Homo sapiens: one gene and its partner. The protein of the gene in region 2 interacts with the protein of the main gene of each other region in a pairwise test. Each region holds a gene or a part of one and is shown on either strand. Other genes may lie near its edges.

Region 1 (7,673 bases), on a different chromosome or scaffold from region 2:
TTGCTAGCCTGATAGATCCTTAGGGCTCCCCCCTCAAGCCTGCAAGTCTTCACCCCAGTGTCATTTTCTCAGTGAAGCCTTCCCTGATCACCATTTCTAAAATCTGCAGTCCAGGCCGGGTATGGTGGCTCATGCCTGTAATCCCAGTACTTTGGGAGGCCGAGGCTGGAGGACTGCTTGAGCCCAGGAGTTTGAGACCAGCCTGGGCAACACAGCAAGACCCTGTATTAAAAATAAATTAGCCAGGCAGGCTGGGGTGTGCTTGTCGTCTCAGCTACTCAGGAGGCTGAGGTGGAGGGATCGCTTGACTCCAGGAGTTCAAGGCTGCACTGAGCCATGATTGTGCCACTACACTCCAGCCTGGGTGACAGAGTGAGACCCTGACTCTAAAAAACAAAACAAAACAAAACAAAAATTAAATCACAGCTCCCTCCCCACTTGCCACACACACACACACACACACACTCTCACACACTTACTCACTTTCCTCTTCTCCCTCCCCATGTTCGGTTTCTTCCTTATCACTAACCACTATCTAACTTATTACATAGTTTACTTGTTTATCTAGTTCATCATCAATTCCTGACTAGGATGCAAACTCCACAAAGGCCGGGCTTTCGTCTGCTTTGTGGACCACGTTCAGCACCTGAGCCTCTCTCATTCACACCCAGGCACCAGCTCAGTCGCCCTAGTACTTTGGGTGAAGAGGAAGGAATATGGGCATCAGTGGTTCTTTTGTTCAGCCAAAGAGCACCCGGCACCATCGGTCTGCTCTTGAGCCTGGCAAGTGCATTTTTTTTTGGGAGCTACCCCACCATGGAATGCCAAGGAGTCCAGGGCAGGACACCATTCCTATCAGCAAACACTAGAACAGGGTAGACGCTGTGTGCCTCTGGTGTTTATCACGTGCTGCCTCTAATAAATGCTATTCACAACCACCACTAGACCAGGTCCCGTGCACCCTGACCCATTTTAACAAACGTACCCATTGAATACAGTGAAGCTGGGGAAGCCCAGCCCAGGAGCATTGCCTCACTGGGTCAGTCCCACTGCTGGGCTAGGACACCTGTGGTCCCTTCTTCTCACCCTGGAGCTGTGTCTGTGTGAGGGGCTTGCCCCTAAGCCAGCCCACCTGGCACCATGAGGCCCCTGCCTTATACAACGGTAAGTTCTCCCATAGCAGCTAAGCTAATTCTGGCTACCTACTGATTTGAAAAGGTTTTTAGAAAGAAATTTGCATTTTCCCAGAAACATCAGCTCTACATTATCCAAATAAACAACAAAGCTAGAACACAGGGGGCAAAGGATTATGAAAGGGACGGGTTTTAAACAAGGATCAAGGAATAGCAAATAATGACATCGGCAAACACTTCTATGATTCTGCTATGGTCTGAGTGTGTCTCCTGAAAATTCATGTTGAAATCCTAACCCCCAAGATGACGATATTAGCAGGTGTGGACTTTGGAGGTGACTAGGTCATGAAAGTGGAGCCCTATAAATGGGATTAGTGCCCTTCTAAAAGCAGGGTGGGAGCGGGTGTGGGGGACGTGGGGGAAAACTCCCTTGCCCGTTGCACCATGTGGAGACACAGCCAGGAGGTACTGTCTGTGCAGAAGGGACCCTCATCAGACCTGGAATCTGCCAGTGGGCTTCCCAGCCTCCAGAACTGGGAGAAACAAATTCCTGTTGCTTATAAGCCACCCAGCCTATGTTGTTTTGTTACAGCAGCCCGAGGGGACTAAGACGGGTACTGTGTCCTAGATTAGCTCATTTAATATTCACTATGATCTATGAAGCAGGCACTACTCTTCATCATTCATGAACGATTATTTCCCGCTGAGAAAACTGAGGCACAGAGCAGTCAGTCGCCTAACTCACGGCCCCTGTGAGAGGGTCGCCAAGATTCTGGAATCCGGGCAGTCTGGCTCCAGAGTCCGTGCTCTTAGTGTCCAGCTATACACTTGAAGAAGTGAAAACTGCAGCTCTTTTCGGACAGTGATCCCCTCGAAAAACAAACAAAAAACTGAAGCCCAGCGGCTGGAGCAAGGGGCCTGGAAAGGCGTTGAGCGAGGGCCGGGGCGCGAGGGCTCCGGGGCGGGCCGGCGGGGACTGCCTCTCCCGCTGGTCACCTGGGGTTGAACTGGAATTGTTCAATAGAGGCCTCGAGGCCCTCCATGATCTTCCGGCCCTCCTCTGTCTCAGGCGAGTCGCCCCAGTTCGCCATTGCAGCCCCGGACGTGCGCCTCCCGCGGAGCCGCTCGCTCTCCTGAGTCGGAGTCGGGAACCCGGCGTCCGTTGCCATGGCGACTCCCAGGTAACCGGCGAAGCGCGGGAATCCGTGGGCGGGGGCCGGGGAGGGCCGCGAGTGGAGGGGGGTGGGGAACGGGGTGGGGAGGGGAAGGGGGAAGGAGATGGGGAGGAGGGGGATAGGGAGAAGGTTGGGGATGGGGGGGAAGGGGAGAGGGAAAGGAAGTAGAGGAGGTGTGGAGGGAAGGAAGAGGGGGAAGGAGTGGGGGAAGGGGGAAGAGATGGAAAGGAGGATGGGGAGGGAGCACGCGCGGGAGGAGGGGAGTGGAGAGGGGGAGGAGGAGGCGGGGCGGGCTCCCAAGCCACCCCGCTGCGCTTTCACTGTCCCGCCTGCCTCAAGGCTTCCCCACAAGACTCCCACAGCCTGGAGGCTGCTGCGATACCCCAGAGGAAAGCTGCACCCCCGTAAATAACCCTTCAGCCTCCCGCCGTGCCCCTGGACCCTGCTCGCTTCCTCCTCTACCCAGGCGCGGAGCTCAGCCTACCTCGTGGACCCGCGCATTTGCGGGGGCTTGAATTCCCGAGCTTCTCGCTTCCTACGCGCGCAGCAGACCCGCAGCTCGGTGGCCTTGGCTTTCATGGCCTCCCAGCGTGTGCCAAAGGTCCCCCTCAAGGAGGAGGAAAAGCAGTGAACCCATCTAATAACTATGCTCATGACATAATGAGCCCTGCGATCCCGGACCAAGGCCATCATAAGAGGAGAGCAGGCTGCCTAATAAGCTGTCTCCACCTGCCACAAACGTAGGCGTTCCTGGACAAAATATTTCCTTGCAGAGATTAAACAGATTTCTATTTAATGAGGTCAGAATGTGAGGCGTTAAGTCTTAAACTATACCATCTAGTGTGGAATTCAATTTTACCAGGTTTCTACAATAATAAGAGTTAATAGTGAAACTGTTGTCATCCTTAGTTTTAAATTATGTATCACTCATTGTCAACTAATAGGAGACACCTATTCTAATATCAGTATGTCATTGTTTTTCTGTAAACGACTGGCTAAATTTATTTTTAAAATGTCATTGTCTGGTTTAGAACTGTCTATACTACATCTGCATTTCAATATATTATCTACAGAAAAATAAGTTTTTTCTCCTCTCTCTTATTATTATTATTATTATTTTTTGGAGCCGGAGTCTCGCTCTGTCGCCCAGGCTGGGGTGCAGTGGCGCGATCTGGGCTCACTGCAACCTCCGCCTCCCGGGTTCAAGCAATTCTCCTGCTTCAGCCTCCCGAGCAGCTGGGACTACAGGCACACAGCACCAAGCCAGGCTAATTTTTTGTATTTTTAGTAGAGACGGGGTTTCACCGCGTTGTGCAGGCTAGTCTAACTCCTGAGCTCAGGCAATCTGCCCCCCTCGGCCTCCCAAAGTGCTAGATAACAGGCGTGAGCCACAGAGCCCGGCCTCTTCTCTGTCTTGTAACAGTAAGTGAAAATAACTTAGCTGGATTTAGAAGCTCAAAACAGGAAAAGAAAAGCACTGTAGCATTATCACTACTATTATGTTTAAAGACAAAGATTAAAAGCCCCAAATGCCAATAAAACATCATAACCAATGCCAAAATCATCTTCTGTGAAGGCTTATTTTTTGGGGGGGAGATGAAGAGAGAAGAGAAAAAGAGTTACTTTTACTCTTTGGAGGTTTTTAATTACAAACTCTAACTTCAGACTTTATTTGGGGAATTTTTATTATATAATCAAAAGGTATTTTAAAAGAAAGAAATTTATATATCTACAATAACTTTTCTTTTTCCTAAGTGATATTTTACCACAATGTATATACATGTTTTAAAATAAAGATTAAAATTTTAAGTTAAAATTTCAAAACCTATCTGTTTAGAGCTGGGCCAAGACAGTGTAAAGAATGTGACAAGCTGTTGGCTATTTTCCTAGTGCAATTATAAATGAATCGTTTGAAACTGAGGAGAGAGATCGCACAGAAGATTTCATGAGTCATTGGTCAGCTCTGTACAGCATTTGTTGACTGATATAGTCTGCATAGTTACGCCATCCCACAAAAACATGCATTGAACAGAACATCTTTGTTTGAAACCTTGCTATAGCATATCAAGGAGTTTCAGATTTCAGTGTCTAAGAGACCACGCTATGATGATGATTGTTTTTGAAACCGTTAACTACATAATACTTCTCTTCTTGTCAGTTACCTGTATTTTATCTCACAGGTGTTCCGGCTTATAAAATTGTTTATTTCAGATCAGATTCTCACCTGTAGTAACTGGCGTTGATGTGGTCAAAACATTTGTCATATTAAATCCAGGCCTCTTTTATCACATGCTAAATTCATTGATGGCTTTAGTGGAAAGCTCATGAACTCTGCAGTAAATATTAAATATATACAGGCTTTGAAACTTACTCGATTTAGAATTTTGGGCAAGTAAGTTAACATTTCAGAGCCTCTATTTTCTCACAAGTAAAAACTGGATAATGAATGTTTCTCAAAGTTGGGGTAATCTATAAAGCAGAAAAACACGCAGCACATGCATGAGGCAACTGCAAGAGAAATACCAACTAGGCCTTTGAAGGACTCTATTCCTTCTTCCTAAACCACTACTAGGGAAAACATTGTTTAAAGATGTCAGTGTTTTGGCTGGATTCGGTGGCTCATGCCTGTAATCCCAACACTTTGGGAGGCGGAGGCAGGCAGATCACTTGAGGTCAGAAGTTTAAGACCAGCCTGGCTAACATGGTGAAACCCTGTCTCTACTAAAAATACAAAAATTACCTGTGCATGGTAATGCACGCCTGTAATCCCAGCTACTTGGGAGACTGAGGCATGAGAATCACCTGATCCCGGGAGGCAGAGGTTGCAGTGAGCCGAGACTGCACCACTGCACTCCAGCCTGGGCGACAGAGTGAGACCCTGTCTCAAAATAAATAAATAAATAAAGATTTCAATTTTAAAAAATTGAACATTTCATAAGTTAACATTGTTTTTACTTGTTCAGTTAATAGGACTTCAGGCACAATTTTAAAATTTGAAGTGCTTCTCTGACATACCACAGGTATAAATAGAATATGTATTTATATAAAAATATCGCCTACCAGTTATTAAAAGTGATAACATCTCAGATTAACTAGCATGAGAATTTGATTAAGAGTCAAGTGCTGACTCTAAACATAGTAATTTATGTATTCCAGTTGGGTAGTATCAGTTCTATAGTCTAATAAGAGCCAAGAGGTTTCAGTTTAGGTTTGTAATTTAAATTCTTTCTAGAGCGTCATCACATGCGAAGTGCTTATTTTTCTTTTATCACCAGCTATAATATATGATTATGTGGTGGAGGCTCTGTTATGTAAACTTGTTTTATGTCATGCTTCATCCACAACCAAAGTTCTTAAATAAAGTCTTTGGAAGGACATAGTAAGGCTCTTAGCCAGGGCAATATAATGCTACTAAATCCTTTATGGCAAAACTCCTGAGACTAGATCATTTTAATGTCTTAAATTTTGCTGCTGTGAGACAGCATATCCACTCTGTGAAAGTCTATCAATAAGCATTTGTCAGCCGACTAAAGCTGAAAACCAAGATGACAAGCCCAGTAGGGGGTTTGGGGCAGGCGCAACTGTGGATGTGGAATTTGGATCCTTGCCGCCAAATGTCCTTGAGCACTGGAGTAAAGGATTTCCTCTATTTGGAGCTAAGTTTAGATCATCACTGTTTAAAAGAGAGCAGGCCCGCGTGTGGCTCACGCCTGTAATCCCAGCACTTTGGAAGGCCAAGGTGGGCGGAGCCCAGAAGCTAGAGGCCAGCTTGGGCAACATTGAGACTCTGTCTCTACAAAAAATTAAAAAGAGAGAAAGAAATAGTAGTGAACGTGAAGAAAATGGCAGGGGTGGGTTGGGCCTGTAATCCCAGCACTTTGGGAAGCCAAGGTGAGGATTGCTTGAGCTCAGGAGTTCAAGACTAGACTGGGCAACATAGGGAGACCCCATCTCTGCCAAAAAAAAAAAAAAAATTTTTTTTTCAAATTAGCCAAGAACCCAGAGTCCCAGCTACCCAAGAGGGTGCAGCAGGGGGATCACGTGAGCTTGGGAAGTCAAGGATAGAGTGAGCTGTGTTCGTGCCATCATATTGTAGCCTAGATGACAGAGCAAGAGTCCATCTCAAATAAATAAATAAATACATAAATAAATGGTAGGGCTTAGCTGTCTGCAGAAGTGAGCCCACCTGAGAGAGAATTTGTAAACTTACTGCTGAGGGAAGTTTGGGCGATCTCCAGTCTGTTCAAATGACCAGAGTGGATCCTAGTGCCTAGAACATAACCTAGGAAAACTGTCACCCACATATTGGAATTTAGGGTGAGGCGGTTCAGGACAAGTCAAAGTCTGGAGAGTAATACAAGGGCAGTCACCATATTTCATGCCGTCTAAGATTGCATCCTTTAGGATGTGTCTTTATTTTCTGTGCCACTTAGAAAAAAACACTTGCCAACTATGATTATACCTTGACACACCATGGGCTATATGATACACTACAATTTCAAGGATATACCAAAATGATACACCAAAATTTTATGTTAGAAATGTGAAAAACTGTCCAGGCACAGTGGCTCACACTGTAATCCCAGCACTTTGGGAGGCCCAGGTGGGCAGATTACCTGAGGCCAGGAGTTTGAGACCAGCCTGGCCAACATAGCAAAACCCCATCTCTACTAAAAATACAAAAATTATCCAGGTGTGGTGGCATGCACCTGTTATCCCAGCTACTTGGGATGCTGAAGCAGGAGAATCACTTGAACCTGGGAGGCAGAGGTTGCAGTGAGCTGAGATTGCACCACTGCACTCCAGCCTGGGCGACAGAGACTCTGTAGGCAACCCCCCCTCCCCCGTCAAAAAAAAGTGAAAAACTGTATATCTTAGAATCAGTGAATAAGGTAGTTAATAAGAATTTATCAGGCAGAGATCCTTCCTGGGGCCCCATTTAATCAGACCCTAGAAGGATCTACTCTCTTGAGAAGCAGGACATTCGTGAGGTTTTTCCACAATAACTTGGATAAAGTGCCCGTAGGACCATCTGGTTCTCTCTGTTCTTTTTCTAGTGTCACAGGGCAACATGCAAATAACTAATTCATGTTCTTGGGTACATAGATGCCAAGAAAGTCTTGATCTAGACAGCAAATGTGATTTTGGCTAGTGTGAATGTTCCCCTGTAGTCTCACCTGAATAAACTGATAAAATACAGTGTTTAGAGCTGTCTACATGAGGACTAGACTCAGAGTCAAGGCATCCCCACAAGGTACCACCAAGTCACACTTTACCAGGCAGTCAGCATGGCTCTCTTATTAACACTTCTGCATCTGCGATATTAAGCGCCCTTTATCATCCTGCAGCTTCAAACTCTGTCTCA
Region 2 (4,093 bases):
GTCCCCAGAACCTCTTCCCCTGCCACTCAGGCTTATGGTGGGAGGAGGAAGTATGAAAAGTCCCCTCCACTGAAAGGCCAGAAGGAAACGCAGCGCTCCCAAGGGAGAGGTGACTGGGGAAAGGCCTTGGGGAGAGAAGTGAGAAACTGGAGAAGGGCTGGGGATTCACTGGGAAGGACTGAGCACCACTTGGGACCCTGGCTCCACGTGTAAACCATTGCTGGAGTGTCCCCCTCCTTGGCCATGGCACAGGTCACCCCAGCCTCTGGGGCCAAGGCGCAAGACCTGTCGGAGAACAGCCAGGCAAAAGCACAGAGAATTTTGCTCTCTGACTACCGCTGCCGCCGCCAGTTCCCTCACAGCCCCCTTGGGGGATTTCCCTGCTGAAGCCAGCAGAAAGCCCAGCAGTCCCAGCGCCCCTCCTGCCACCGTCAGAGCTGCACTGATGCCCCACCAGCACCTCAGCGGGAGCCGCTGCCCACACCCCTGCCCCCTCCCCTCAGCCTTCCAGGAAGCGAAGGCCAGACACAGGGAAACAGAAACATGTTGCCCTTTTATTTGCGTTTCTCAGAATACTGTACAAAGGGAGTAAAAATCCTATTCACACTTTGCTTAGAAAGATTTTAAGGTGAAAGTTCCCTATGATACACGGGGTGGGAGATGCAGGGTCAGGAGGGAGAAAACAGGCCCAGTGACCTCTCCCGTTCCCTTGGACCCCTGGAAGAGGACACAGGGACCCACACCTTTTCAAAATTAACACTGCCCCTAGTCCAACTGGGGAGGGGAGAAGGCTCCAGCCCAGGCTCAGGCTCCCGGCCTCACTTTCTTCTCTGCAGGCTGAGACAGTGCCTACAGGCCACGTCTTGCCCCTTCCTCTGTGCTGCTTGAGCAGGGATCCTACAGGACTCTCACCACAGACCCCACATGGGGTGGCCTCACAACGCCACATGTGGCTGCCACATGAGAGGCCCTGCCCAGTGCCAGTCTGTATGAGGAAGTTAAGGGGTGAGGGCCTGCAGAGGACCACAGCACCCATCGTTTCTGTCACAGCTTCCCCATACCCCCGCAGGAGTCAGGGCCAAGTTGGACCTGTGCTTACAATGACTCACGGGCCTTTTCCCCACCTGTCTACCCAACAGCCAACCCAGGAGTTAAACCCACAGCAGCCTCCCTCCCCTATTACTATCACATTCTGTGGGTAAATTAACCCTCCAAGCCTGCTTCCCTCCCTGCCCACATCCCAAAGGAGATTGGGTCTAGCTTCTGTCCCTACCCCTCCCTCCCTTACACCAGTCCTCTGCTGCTATGTGGCCCCATTCTTCTAAGTCTCGACTCACTAGCTCTCCTACAGCTCCCCAACCTCCACCAGGCCAGGATGGCAGCAGCCCTGGCCCCCTCACCTCTGGAACCAAGCCATCTACACTCTACCCCATCTTTCCCCAACCTGACCCTCCCCACTCCCAACCAGGACCCACGGTGGGTTGCAGAGAAGCTGCCAAAAGCCTGGGACTTGGATTAGACAGCTCCCTACCCAGAAAGGCAAAGACCCATCCCACACTTGCTTCCATACACAAAAGCACACACTGCGTGGCATCGAAAAAACCTAGGAATCACAGTGAAACAATCCAGAAGCCGTACCGCCCTCTGCTCCCTATGCAGGGGTTAAAGTGCTTTGGCTGCCTGAGGGCAAACAAGTGAGCAGGGGTTTTTCCCCTGGCCTCCTGTCGCAACTGCGTGGTCCATGTTCAGCCCAGGAGCCCAGCCCATTCCATGACCAACTCCATGGAGTCTCTATTCAAAAAGCAAAAGGAAAAGATCAAAAAATTCAGAAAAGGTCAGAGCCCAGGGGGCCTACCCCAACCCCACTACAAGCTACTCCAAGTTGGCTACTGGGGGAAGCGAGGGGGGAAATTAGGCCAGAGGCTCAACCCCCATCTCTGGCAGTGTCCAGAGGCTTCTTCTTTCTGTCTTCAGTGTTGCAGCACATGCCTTTTACCCTACCCCTCCCCTGCCACCCTGGGCAGGGGAAGGGGCTGCACTCTCAGTACTTATTGATTCCAAAAATCCGGACTCCGTGGAGCTGGGGCAGCTTGGGGATAAGCACGCTCATCAGGGACACGGTGTTGAGCACAAAATGGATCTGGTCGTACTTAGTGTAGAAGCTGGTGAGGAAGTACCTGGGAGGGGAAGGGTGGGGAGAGATATAAAAGACTGTTGGGAGGACCCCTTCCTCCCTCACTTCCTGGGAGGGGAAAGGCAGAATCCCAACAGCTAAGGAGTTACAGAAGAGGTTCCCAGACCAGCGTAAGAAGCAAGAGCTCTCAGGCTAAAGGGGCCCCTCCTGGCCCAGTACCGCCCCCACCTCCCAGCTTCACCCCAAGCCTGTAGGCCTATCTCACTAGCAGGAAGGAAGCTCCAATGGAGGAAAGATGGGGCCAGGGAGGCCCAAAGCCTGAGTCCAGTGTAAGACCCAGGAATATTCCAACTTCCTCTGTTCATCCCTACACCAGGAGCCACGGCAGGGTTAATAAGCATGGCTGGGCCCTGGGGTCCTCCAGGCCTTGCCCTGCCTGCTGGTGTCTTCCTGTAGCCCAGGCACTCACAGCACGATGGGTGTGATGGTCAAGAACTTCCGAGAGGCCGTGAACTGGACCCCATAATCCATCTGCTCCCAGTGGGTTAGCAGCCTCGCCTTGCCCTGGTCCGGGGTCTCAAAGGGTGTCCCCTTCACCGTGTGCAGGAAGATATACATGCCCTGGAGGAAGAAGTCTTTGTTAGAGGATACAAAAGGGAAAGGCCCCCCTGCCCAGCTCCTCCACCCAGTCACAGACACAAGTAACTCCCAGTGATCTGGAGCCTCCCTCTGCTGGGCAGGGGGATATGGGCTGGAGGTCAGGATGGAGCAGCTGGGAGTATGGCAGGAGAAGAACAAGGGGACTCCCTGGGGGACGGGCTAGGCCTGGCATGAGAATGCACGGTGGAAGTTGGCCACAAGATAGGCACCGAGATGCTGCCCCCCTCCAGGCCACTCATAGCCCCCTGTGCCTGTTGGGAGGAGGCAAGCGATGGGACTAAGCCCTGCTTACCCGACAAAGAGTGCAAGGTAGCAAGTGGTGAGGGAGCAGAGAAGGGCAAAAGTGGAAGACGGTTCGAGAAGCTAACTTGAGAAAGGGGCATTTCTGTATCAGCCTAGGCACCAGGACTCTCGGGTCCTGGGAACTCTCTGGAGCCCTTTGTTCAGCTCTCAGGAGCACATCTTCCAGGCCAACAGCCACCCCACCCTAGAGATGTGGAAAAATCTGCAGATTTGATTCCTGTCATGGTACACAGGGCAGGAACCCAGAAGGGGGAGCAAGGCAGAGAGGTAAGGGCTAGGCCTGGGCTCTGGAGGCAGATGTCGTCAGTACATCACCCTGACACCTGGGCCAGGCCCGACAGGCTCCTCCTATCCCTCAGCCCTGCCAAAGGGCAGCCCACAGGGCAGGGGCAGGGGCAGGGGCAGGCAGCAGACAGGCTCTCACCATGTTGTGAATGAGGTTGGTGAGGGTCCAGACGACAGGGACACTCACAAACGGGATGCTCAGCAGCACGATGTGGAGGAGACCGATGGCCAGCACGTAGGAGAGCCAGATGCCACGGCTGTTCATCACCCGCGTGTTGGGGTTCACCTCGCTGTGCGCTGTGCCCACATTCATCCTGCTGCCCCTCTCTGCTGTTCTGCAAACAAGCAGCACAGGTCAGACAGGTCACACTGCTTTCCCTGCCCCCTCTCACCCTCGGATCCCGCTGGGAGGCAGGCCCTTGTTTCCCTGAGAACTCCAGGCAGTTCCACTCTTTTGATTCTGAAGCATGGAAAGTGGAGAAAGTCCATGTGGACTTAGCTCTACTCATTTCCTGCTGCTGGGCTGGGATAAACAACAGGCTGCCCCATGCATCATCCCATTGGGACAGGGCCCTGGCAGGGCATCGGAGGACAGGTCATCAAGAGGCACGCAGCCCCAGGGCAGAGAAGTCAAGGCCCATCCCCCAGCCTCACCCCCTATGGCACTCCCATGAGGACCCTCTGCCGACAAAGCCCCAGGGAGAGAATTCT

What was found. Proteins that work in one complex are often made in the same cells at the same time.
Region 1: the proteins of ORMDL3 (region 2) and C10orf67 interact in binary tests that used the Homo sapiens proteins (3 or more experiments, as listed by UniProt).

Annotation. Positions count from the first base shown.
Region 1 is NC_000010.11:23,341,777-23,349,449, forward strand, and holds the start of C10orf67 (uncharacterized protein C10orf67, mitochondrial), read right to left. Parts: upstream 3,022-7,673; 5' UTR 3,002-3,021; coding exon of another isoform or gene 2,999-3,001; coding exon 2,793-2,998; exon of another isoform or gene 2,648-2,792; intron 2,315-2,647; exon of another isoform or gene 2,303-2,314; coding exon of another isoform or gene 2,130-2,302; intron 1-2,129.
Region 2 is NC_000017.11:39,920,509-39,924,601, forward strand, and holds the end of ORMDL3 (ORM1-like protein 3), read right to left. Parts: intron 3,718-4,093; 5' UTR 3,696-3,717; coding exon 3,522-3,695; intron 2,756-3,521; coding exon 2,604-2,755; intron 2,178-2,603; coding exon 2,042-2,177; 3' UTR 535-2,041; downstream 1-534. UniProt on the Homo sapiens protein: Plays an essential role in the homeostatic regulation of sphingolipid de novo biosynthesis by modulating the activity of the serine palmitoyltransferase (SPT) in response to ceramide levels.